2 linked regions of the Homo sapiens genome follow. The protein of the gene in region 1 interacts with the protein of each later gene in a pairwise test. Each region holds a gene or a part of one and is shown on either strand. Other genes may lie near its edges.

Region 1 (4,457 bases):
CCAATTGTAATGTATGGACTTCATTATAATTCTGATTTCAAGTAGTAAACTGTGTGGGCCGGAATTAGGAAGCAATGAGAAATATTTGAATGCTAACTGGATATTTAATGTAAGGAATTATTTTATGTTGTTTTAGGTGGGATAATGGCGTGGATATGTTTTTATTTTTTTTAATTCCTACCTTTATACAGACATGCTGAAATATTTACAGTTGAAATGATTAACTGTCTGGGATTTTTTTCAAAATAATCTCAGTGCAGAGGAAACTGGAAGGGTTGTAGATGAAACTTGGAAGTGGATGTTTCTCTCTACTTTTGGATATGCTTATAATTTTCCATATAAAAGTTCTGAAAACGGAAAATAAAATGCTCACATTGTGAGGCTAAGGCCAAAAGAAATCAGAGATGCATGAGAATTTCCAAATTCAGGATTATTTAAGAACAACATAGAGAAAAAAATACTTCTGGTTTGAGTTGCAAAAATTTATTTCTTTTATGCAATATACTAAAAAATCATAATTAATTGAAAAATATAATACTTCATATGTAAAGGGGAGAAAACTACTCCACCAAAGATGTCACATCTTTTAATTCATTTGGAGATCAAAGAAATGTGTCTGCCAGGCAACCAAGGGCTCATGGAAAGGTGTGGTTTCTGTACAAATGCTATTTGTCTAATATTTTGTGCTGTTAATGACTGTCCCATTAGCATCTTCACTACACTTACTTTCATAGAAAGGAGAAACATGATTTATAGAGCCCTTTAGTGACAAGGGTGAGGATCCTACACACTATGTTGCTGGTTTCCTAGTCTTCAGCAAGAAAGTGTAGGAGAGAAGCAAAAAACGTCCTGTTCAACCCCTGCTCCTGGATGTGGCAAGGAAGAGGAGTTACCCGGCTTGAAACAAAAGAAATCCTAAGTCTGACACACAATGTCATGTTTAAATTCCCCTTTCTCCAAAATGTAAAATAAATCTGCTTCCATCTTCTAAAATACTATGGGACTAAACATCCTTTTGTTATGCTAAGGAAAAGCCAGTATTCGCGTTGATTTAGAAGAGGGATGTTCTGGTTATAGAACGATGCTGTGTCTCAGAAACACTTAAATACTATTAAGCTAGAAATAGAAGGGAAAATAATGCTTCCCCGCATCTCCCCTCAAGTGTAGTCCTCTTTTTTTAGCCTGATTTCCGACGAAATGTCTGAATGCCTACAGTTATTTGGCCATCCTGAAAAGTGCAACTTATCCTGACGTCTCGAGGGACGGAAAAGTTACCGAAGTCCAAGGAATGAGTCACTTTGCTCAAATTTGATGAGTAATATCAGGTGTCATGAAACCCAGTTTCGAAGGAGAGGGGAGGGGGCGTCAGATCTGCAGACGGAAGCAGGCCGCTCCGGATTGGATGGCGAGACCTCGATTTTCCTAAAATTGCGTCATTTAGAACCCAATTGGGTCCAGATGTTATGGGCATCGACGAGTTACCGTCTCGGAAACTCTCAATCACGCAAGCGAAAGGAGAGGAGGCGGCTAATTAAATATTGAGCAGAAAGTCGCGTGGGGAGAATGTCACGTGGGTCTGGAGGCTCAAGGAGGCTGGGATAAATACCGCAAGGCACTGAGCAGGCGAAAGAGCGCGCTCGGACCTCCTTCCCGGCGGCAGCTACCGAGAGTGCGGAGCGACCAGCGTGCGCTCGGAGGAACCAGAGAAACTCAGCACCCCGCGGGACTGTCCGTCGCAGTAAGTGCCCGCGCGGTGCTGGCCGCGGCTGCCCGGGTCACCCCGCCCCGCATCTGTCCGAGGTGGCCGCGCTGGGGGCGCCGCTGCGGCGAGGGACAGTGGGGAGACTGGCTTCCCAAACGCCAACGCCCCTCTTTGTCTTCCACCTGCAGAGTTTCCTGGTTTGAAGGTGTGGGTTGGTGGGTTAGGGGGCTGGGGGAGTTGGGATTCAGGGAGAAGAGGGTTGGAGAATCTTTGGGACGCGATTCTCTCGCCTAACCGGTACAGGTGAGACTTCAGTCCTTATGTTTTTGATCTTGGTTCATCCGTTGTGGGGCAGAAAATTCTGTTGCTTTAACTCTTGGATAACCACCCCTAATAGATACATTATTTCTCTCTTTGGTGTCTTCTCCTCCTACCCCTTCCCAGAAATCCAACATGAAAATCCTCGTGGCCTTGGCAGTCTTTTTTCTTGTCTCCACTCAGCTGTTTGCAGAAGAAATAGGAGCCAATGATGATCTGAATTACTGGTCCGACTGGTACGACAGCGACCAGATCAAGGTGAGGCCCCTTCCCAGGACGGCCCGCACCCTTCTTCCTGGGCTCGGGAGCTGTCACCTTCCCACGCAACAGCACCCTAGTTAACGTGGCACGCACCGCCACCACGGAAAGAGGCAGCGGTTGCGTGCGAGAGGATGGAAAGGGGCACTATTTCCCGGGTTCCCCACGGGATTTTGTGCCCACGATTCAAGTTTCTTCCCGAGGGCTGCACCGTCCGGCCCAGGAACTCCCTGCAGTAGGGATGCCCTCCCGGATGAGCCCGAGATCCTCACAAGGCGGGAAATCTCGTAAGATTTCATCCCCCAGGACCTGGGATTTCGGGGGCTCCGGTCCAGCTGCACTGCCCTAGCGTCTGGGCACGGGCAGAGGAGGGCGCCTGGGTCGCGGGCAGCAGCGGGCACACGCGCGAGCTGCAGGGGGATTGGAGGGCCGGAGGCTGGAGGGAAGTTAATTTCCTGCCTTCACGTTTGTTTTGCGGACCTGAGGATGTAGCTTGAAGTCTCCCTTTAGAAACTCGTAGGCTACAGGCGCTGGGGAGCGCGCCTCGGAAAAACGGTGAAAGTCGTCTGTAAAGCGTTGTCACCCTTCCCCACCGGAGCCCCAGCCCCAGATCCCACACACCTGTGTGCATTTAGGGCGGTGAGGACTCTACAAAGCCGGCACCGAGACAAGACAAAGTCAGGTGGCGGCGCAGCAGATGAGGGAAGGTCCCCGGGCTGGGAGGAAAGAGCGGAAAGCGCTCGAAGCTTGAAGACGCCGAGCCAGCTGCTAACTCGCCCTGGCAGGCTTGCGGGGGGCGGGACGCGAGTTCGGCGGGGAGGGGCGCAGAGAGGCAGCGCCTCGGGAGGGACCCCGCTCAGCCCGAGCGTGGGGAAGGCCGCCTCCCCACGCCTCGGGGCCGGAGTACAGCGGGGGGAAGGGCTCGGGTTGCTGGGTGCCTCGCTCTGGTTGCCTTACACGCCCTTTGTCCGTGCTTTTGTCTCCCAGGAGGAACTGCCGGAGCCCTTTGAGCATCTTCTGCAGAGAATCGCCCGGAGACCCAAGCCTCAGCAGTTCTTTGGATTAATGGGCAAACGGGATGCTGGTGAGATAGGCGACCGTCCCTAGGTGTCTTGGGCAGCCCGCCCTGTCTGCTCACTCCTTCCTGGAGTACCCCAGGGTCTCTCGCTCTGAATAGAGATTTCCACTCCAAGAGGGGTGTAATTCCCCAGGCGCGACATTGGCCCACACCGCACTAAGGCACGCACGGGCCCGCGGGGGGAGGGAAAGATCTGGTTCGCATGCCTCACTGTATTCGAGTGAAGCGCTCCCTTGACTAAAGATCCAAACTGACAAAGGGAAGGCACGGGCCTCCAGGGGTAGTACTGCGGATGATCCAAGTGCATGTGGAAGAGGATTTTATAGCATTCCCTGAGGTGAGAGTACATTTGTCTTGGGATAGAAATATCGTTTCCTTGAATTCATCGCACGGTCAGTGGAACATGTAGTTAATGACAATTCGTCTCTTGTCAGATTCCTCAATTGAAAAACAAGTGGCCCTGTTAAAGGCTCTTTATGGTAAACATTCCTATAAATCTTTATTTTACTATTGTGAAAGCACATGTAGGAAAGTGAAATAAAATCTTTTATGGGCTGAAATACAAGATCTGGGTCATGCCTGTTTAATAAAGAGATGGATTTGCGCACTCTCTCTCGGTTTCTCTCTCTCTCTGTCACTCTCTCTGTCTCTCTCTCTCTGTCACTCTCTCTCAGTCTCTCTCTCTCTCTTTCTCTCTCTCTCTCAGTGGGTGGCCAGCCTTGAAGGTGGGATGTGTTACAGTCTTATAGTTAATAAGAGGCCTCAGAAGTCTCATAGTCCTAGGTTTGAATCCCATAGAAGGCACTTAATAAAAATTCCATTTGTTTGTTTAAATATTTAGTTTTTATGATTAATAATTTGTTTAGCATTTATGGTTCTGCTTTATTCCTCAGGATAATATATAGATAGAAAATGTTACATATTTTGAGAATCAAATTATTTTATAAAAGATATAATGTAGCATCTTTAAAAACAAATCTATATGTGTTTGCTAATTTTATCTTTCTTCTAGGACATGGCCAGATCTCTCACAAAAGTAAGTTCAAAATTATTTTGACATTTATCAAATTTAAATGTAAAATTATATTGAATTTCACTTTA
Region 2 (3,809 bases), on another chromosome or scaffold:
GTGGTAGAGGGGAAGCTTACCTGGTGTATCTCTACCCAGTGACTGGGAGAGGGGTCCCTGTGACCTCCTAACTCCCACTGCAGCTCCTCTGGCTTGGCCACTCTTTTCAGATCATTCTCTGACAGCACCTCAGCACCCTGTAGAGGGTAAGGCAGGGGGTTTCTTCCTGGGCACCCAAGGACTCAGAAACCAGCCTGGGGCTCCAGCCAGCCTCTTCTCCTCTCCCCACTACTGATGGGAAACTAGATGGGAATGAAGGGCTCAAACCTGAAATCCACAGAGTTCAGTTGGAAGGTCATCATGAATGAGAATCAGCAGCCGCTGAACAAGGGGAGGATCTCCTGAGTCCTAAGGGCAGAAAAGAATAACCCTAAACTGGGCAATCGGGTGTCCTGGACTGGCCACTGGTGAAGAGTTAGGATCCAGGGGAACTGCCTGTTTGAGGGGTGGTTACCTGAAGTTGGCTCAAGGCAGGAATGAGTGCTGGAGGCAGTGGAGGTGCCTGACGAAGGTCCAGCAGGACGGACAGCCCCAGTGTCTGTAGATCAGGCCTGCGGGAGCAGGAAGAGCCAAGGAGGCTGCTGTGTGTGTGTTTTGGGGGATAGCAGATAAGGCAAGGCAGACATACGGGGTCTGTTTTTAGTTAATAGTCCTGAGGAGAAATTAGTTGCCGGTACATTTGGGAAGAAATGGGCAAAGGGCCAAATTCTGGGGTGTGTGTACAAGAGGAAGTCACCTAGCAGTCAGGGGTCTATATTCATATGGCTACTAGGTCAAGGGATTAAGGTCTGGAAAATTAAGAATTCTGTTCTGAAATGGCGTGCATTCAATATCAGCCTGTAGTATGGTGCCTAATAGGTACTCAGTGCTCAATAAATGTTTGTTGAATCAGTGAACCAATGTCCTGATGATCTTGGTAGGGTTGGAAGAGAGTGAAAGTCAACAGTGTTGCTTTTGAAGATCAGTGAAGATATGAAGCTGGAGGTCAGGGTAAGTAAGGCCAAAGGTCAATGGCTTGAAGTCTGAAGGTTGAAGAAGTAGGTGTCCTTAGAGGTCAGAAGGTCAGTGTCCTGAGAAGAAGGAGGTGAGGGTCCTCATGAATCAGGAGGTTAGTGTCCAGGGTGCCAGGACTGGGCCTCGGTTACCTGAGCAGTGAGTGGAGGTAATGAAGAGTTGTGTTCAGCGTGTCTCGGGAGGGTGGGGGCTCCTCAGGAGGGCACGGTGGGGTAATGGTCAGCAGAGCTCGCCCACTCTGGTCCACCCCTCCTGAAGACACAAAATGGCCAGGCTGTCCTGGCTGGGAGCAGTCCATGCCTACCTCCTTTCCACCCTGCCTCCCCCAGTCCCCAAGCCCACCCAATTGCTTCTCTTTCCCAGTCCTGTTTCCCTTCACCCACTGATGCCCACTGACCCGTCAGGATGAGGAATCCAGATGCCATCAAGTCCCAAGCTACATCAGGGTGATCAGAGACGGAGACTGCAAGGGCCTCTTCTGGAATGTTGTCCCCTTTTCCTTCCTGCACAGTCTCCAGCGGAGGTGTTGGAGTGTCAGACAGGGGGCCTTCTGGGCCTGTGTGTCCTGCACAGACACAGACAGAAACATGGGACTGAAGTTAAGATGGTTCTGGTTGTTCTGCTCCCAGCCTAACCCTGCTCCTCCTCCTGCCCCCTCCCATAGGCCCGACCTGCTTTGGCCCTTGCCCCATGAGCCTCACTCCGTGTCATCTCACCTGCCATACACAGCAGGCCTGGCCCCTCCAGCTCTCTCTCTCCGGCCCCCTCTTCTGTAGGCCCACAGGCTTCAGAGAGCTGAGGCTCTTTCTCGCCTGCTGTTTTGAGCTCTTTTGGCTCAGATTCTGGCTTCCCTGAGCCTTCATATTCCTCCTTAACCAGGTGGCATTCTGGAAGCTTGTGCTCACTTGGTGAGGGCAGATTGCCAAGGGCTTCTTGGTGGCTGGCATCTTCCTTGTCCCCAGGGCTCAGTGGGGCACTGTCCCCTCCTCGGCTAAGAGCCCCTCGACCTGCAGCTCGCTTCTTTCTTCTGTTTCCTTTGCCTGTTCTCCGAGGGGTACCAGGTGGTCCTTCAGCCCCCTGGCCTCCTCCTCCTCCTCCTCTAAGCTCCCCTGGCCTCAGGGGGCAAGATCCGGAGGCTTCTCCCACAGCCTCTGCTGGGGGCTCAGACACCTCCAAGACTGCTGCCTCTGGGACAGCCTCAGCTCCTGGGGGAGACTCAGGGGAGGCTCCGGTGCTGCTCCCCTCGCCGGGTGGGCGTGCTCCATCCTGGCCCCGAGGCCCCAGGCCCTTCTGGTGCATCCACGCCCGGTGTCTCCGGTGGCGGCCCTTCCCTCCAGCGCCCTTGCGGGTGGGTACCGTCCGGACTCTGGAGAGGCCTGGGGAGCCTTCAGCATCTGTTGGGCTCCCCCTCACGGGCAGCGTCACCTCTAACAGCTCCACATACTCGCCCTCAGGTCCTTCCACAGGGGCATTGTGCCCATCCCCAGGACTCCGGGTACCCAGCGCCTCCTCAGGAAGTGGAGGGCTGGGAAGCCCTGGAGGTCCAGAGGGCAGTTCTGGGGGCAGTGTACTTGGCTGATGTCCAACCATGAGGCCCTCTTTGTGCACAAATCGTGGACAGATGAGCTCAGCCCAGGGCAGCCGCTGAATCCCAGAGGGCGCAGACAGTAGGCAGGTACTGAGGCGACCTGTTGGCCGGTCCTTGTTGATGCCTTGTAGCCACTCAGGTGTGAATAGGTAGGCACAAGCCTCATTGGGCACAGGAACCTCCTGCACCCGCCCACCCCCAGGGGCCAGACACTTGAGTGCTAGTCGGGGTGCTTGGGCAGCTGAGGGCACCACCTGCAGATAGAAGTCTCCTGGGCGCAGCAGTTGCCAGGGTAGGGCTGCTAGCTGCACCACCACCTGTTCATGCAGGCAGAGCGGCCACCCCTCATGGAAGAAGAGGAATCCACTGTATTGGGCCTGGGGAGAGAGGTGGGAGGCTGCACTCAGGCCTCTGCTGAAGAAACCAGCAGGAGAGGGCAGTTAGAATGGGCCCACCCTAGGCAGGACCAGCCTTATGCCTGGAAGGTTATACTCTCAGGAGAGCAGGAGGGGAGATTTGGGGTATTCAGGTGGCAGAGAGGAAGGGATTGGGACTGATCGGTCTCCCAGTAGTAGGAAGATTCTTCAGGAAGCTAGTTCCATGTGTGGGAGGGTAAGAACTGAATCGTTACCAAGACATGGTCAGCAGATGCCATTGTCTTGGAGAAGCTAAAGACTCTTAGGAGTCTTTATATCTGTAGAAATGAATGATCTCTGTTGACTAATGTACGGGGGAGTTAGTGTCTTGAGAAATTCATATGAGGGGGAGAAGATGTCTGGAATTGGGTCTGGAGAGTTAGGGTCTTTGGGGGTCAGTATTGGGGTCAAGATGAATTTGGGGAAGATGAATGTGTGTGTGTGTGTGTGTGTTAGCATCTGAATGGTCAGTGCCTGTGAAGGTCAAAGTTTGTGAGAGGTCAGAGAATGAAGCTTAAGTGATTCTGGAGAGATCGGTTTCAAGGGAGGCTGTATCTCTAGGTTAGTGGGGGCATTAGTCAGCCTGGCTAGTCTGTAGAGTGTGGCAGTGGATCTTGGGGAAGGCAGAATAGTGATGCACGGCCACTCACACAGGCTTCCTGCTGGACCTTGGCAAGCAGGTGCTTGGCTGGTACCAGGAAGTCCAGCGTGTACCTCAGTGCGTCCTCCCGATAAGTCCTCTCCACCACCTGGAACACCTGGCCCAACAGGGTGGGGGCTGTTGCCTCAAA

The links.
Region 2: the proteins of TAC1 (region 1) and ARHGEF40 interact in a two-hybrid assay, tested with the Homo sapiens proteins (one large-scale study listed by IntAct).

The regions. Positions count from the first base shown.
Region 1 is NC_000007.14:97,730,458-97,734,914, forward strand, and holds the start of TAC1 (protachykinin-1 isoform beta precursor), read left to right. Parts: upstream 1-1,628; 5' UTR 1,629-1,738; intron 1,739-2,146; 5' UTR 2,147-2,155; coding exon 2,156-2,278; intron 2,279-3,265; coding exon 3,266-3,362; intron 3,363-3,790; coding exon 3,791-3,835; intron 3,836-4,368; coding exon 4,369-4,392; intron 4,393-4,457. UniProt on the Homo sapiens protein: Tachykinins are active peptides which excite neurons, evoke behavioral responses, are potent vasodilators and secretagogues, and contract (directly or indirectly) many smooth muscles.
Region 2 is NC_000014.9:21,073,102-21,076,910, reverse strand, and holds part of ARHGEF40 (rho guanine nucleotide exchange factor 40), read right to left. Parts: coding exon 3,669-3,809; intron 2,980-3,668; coding exon 1,731-2,979; intron 1,580-1,730; coding exon 1,412-1,579; intron 1,289-1,411; exon of another isoform or gene 1,267-1,288; coding exon 1,146-1,266; intron 552-1,145; coding exon 455-551; intron 376-454; exon of another isoform or gene 349-375; coding exon 268-348; intron 138-267; coding exon 21-137; intron 1-20. UniProt on the Homo sapiens protein: May act as a guanine nucleotide exchange factor (GEF).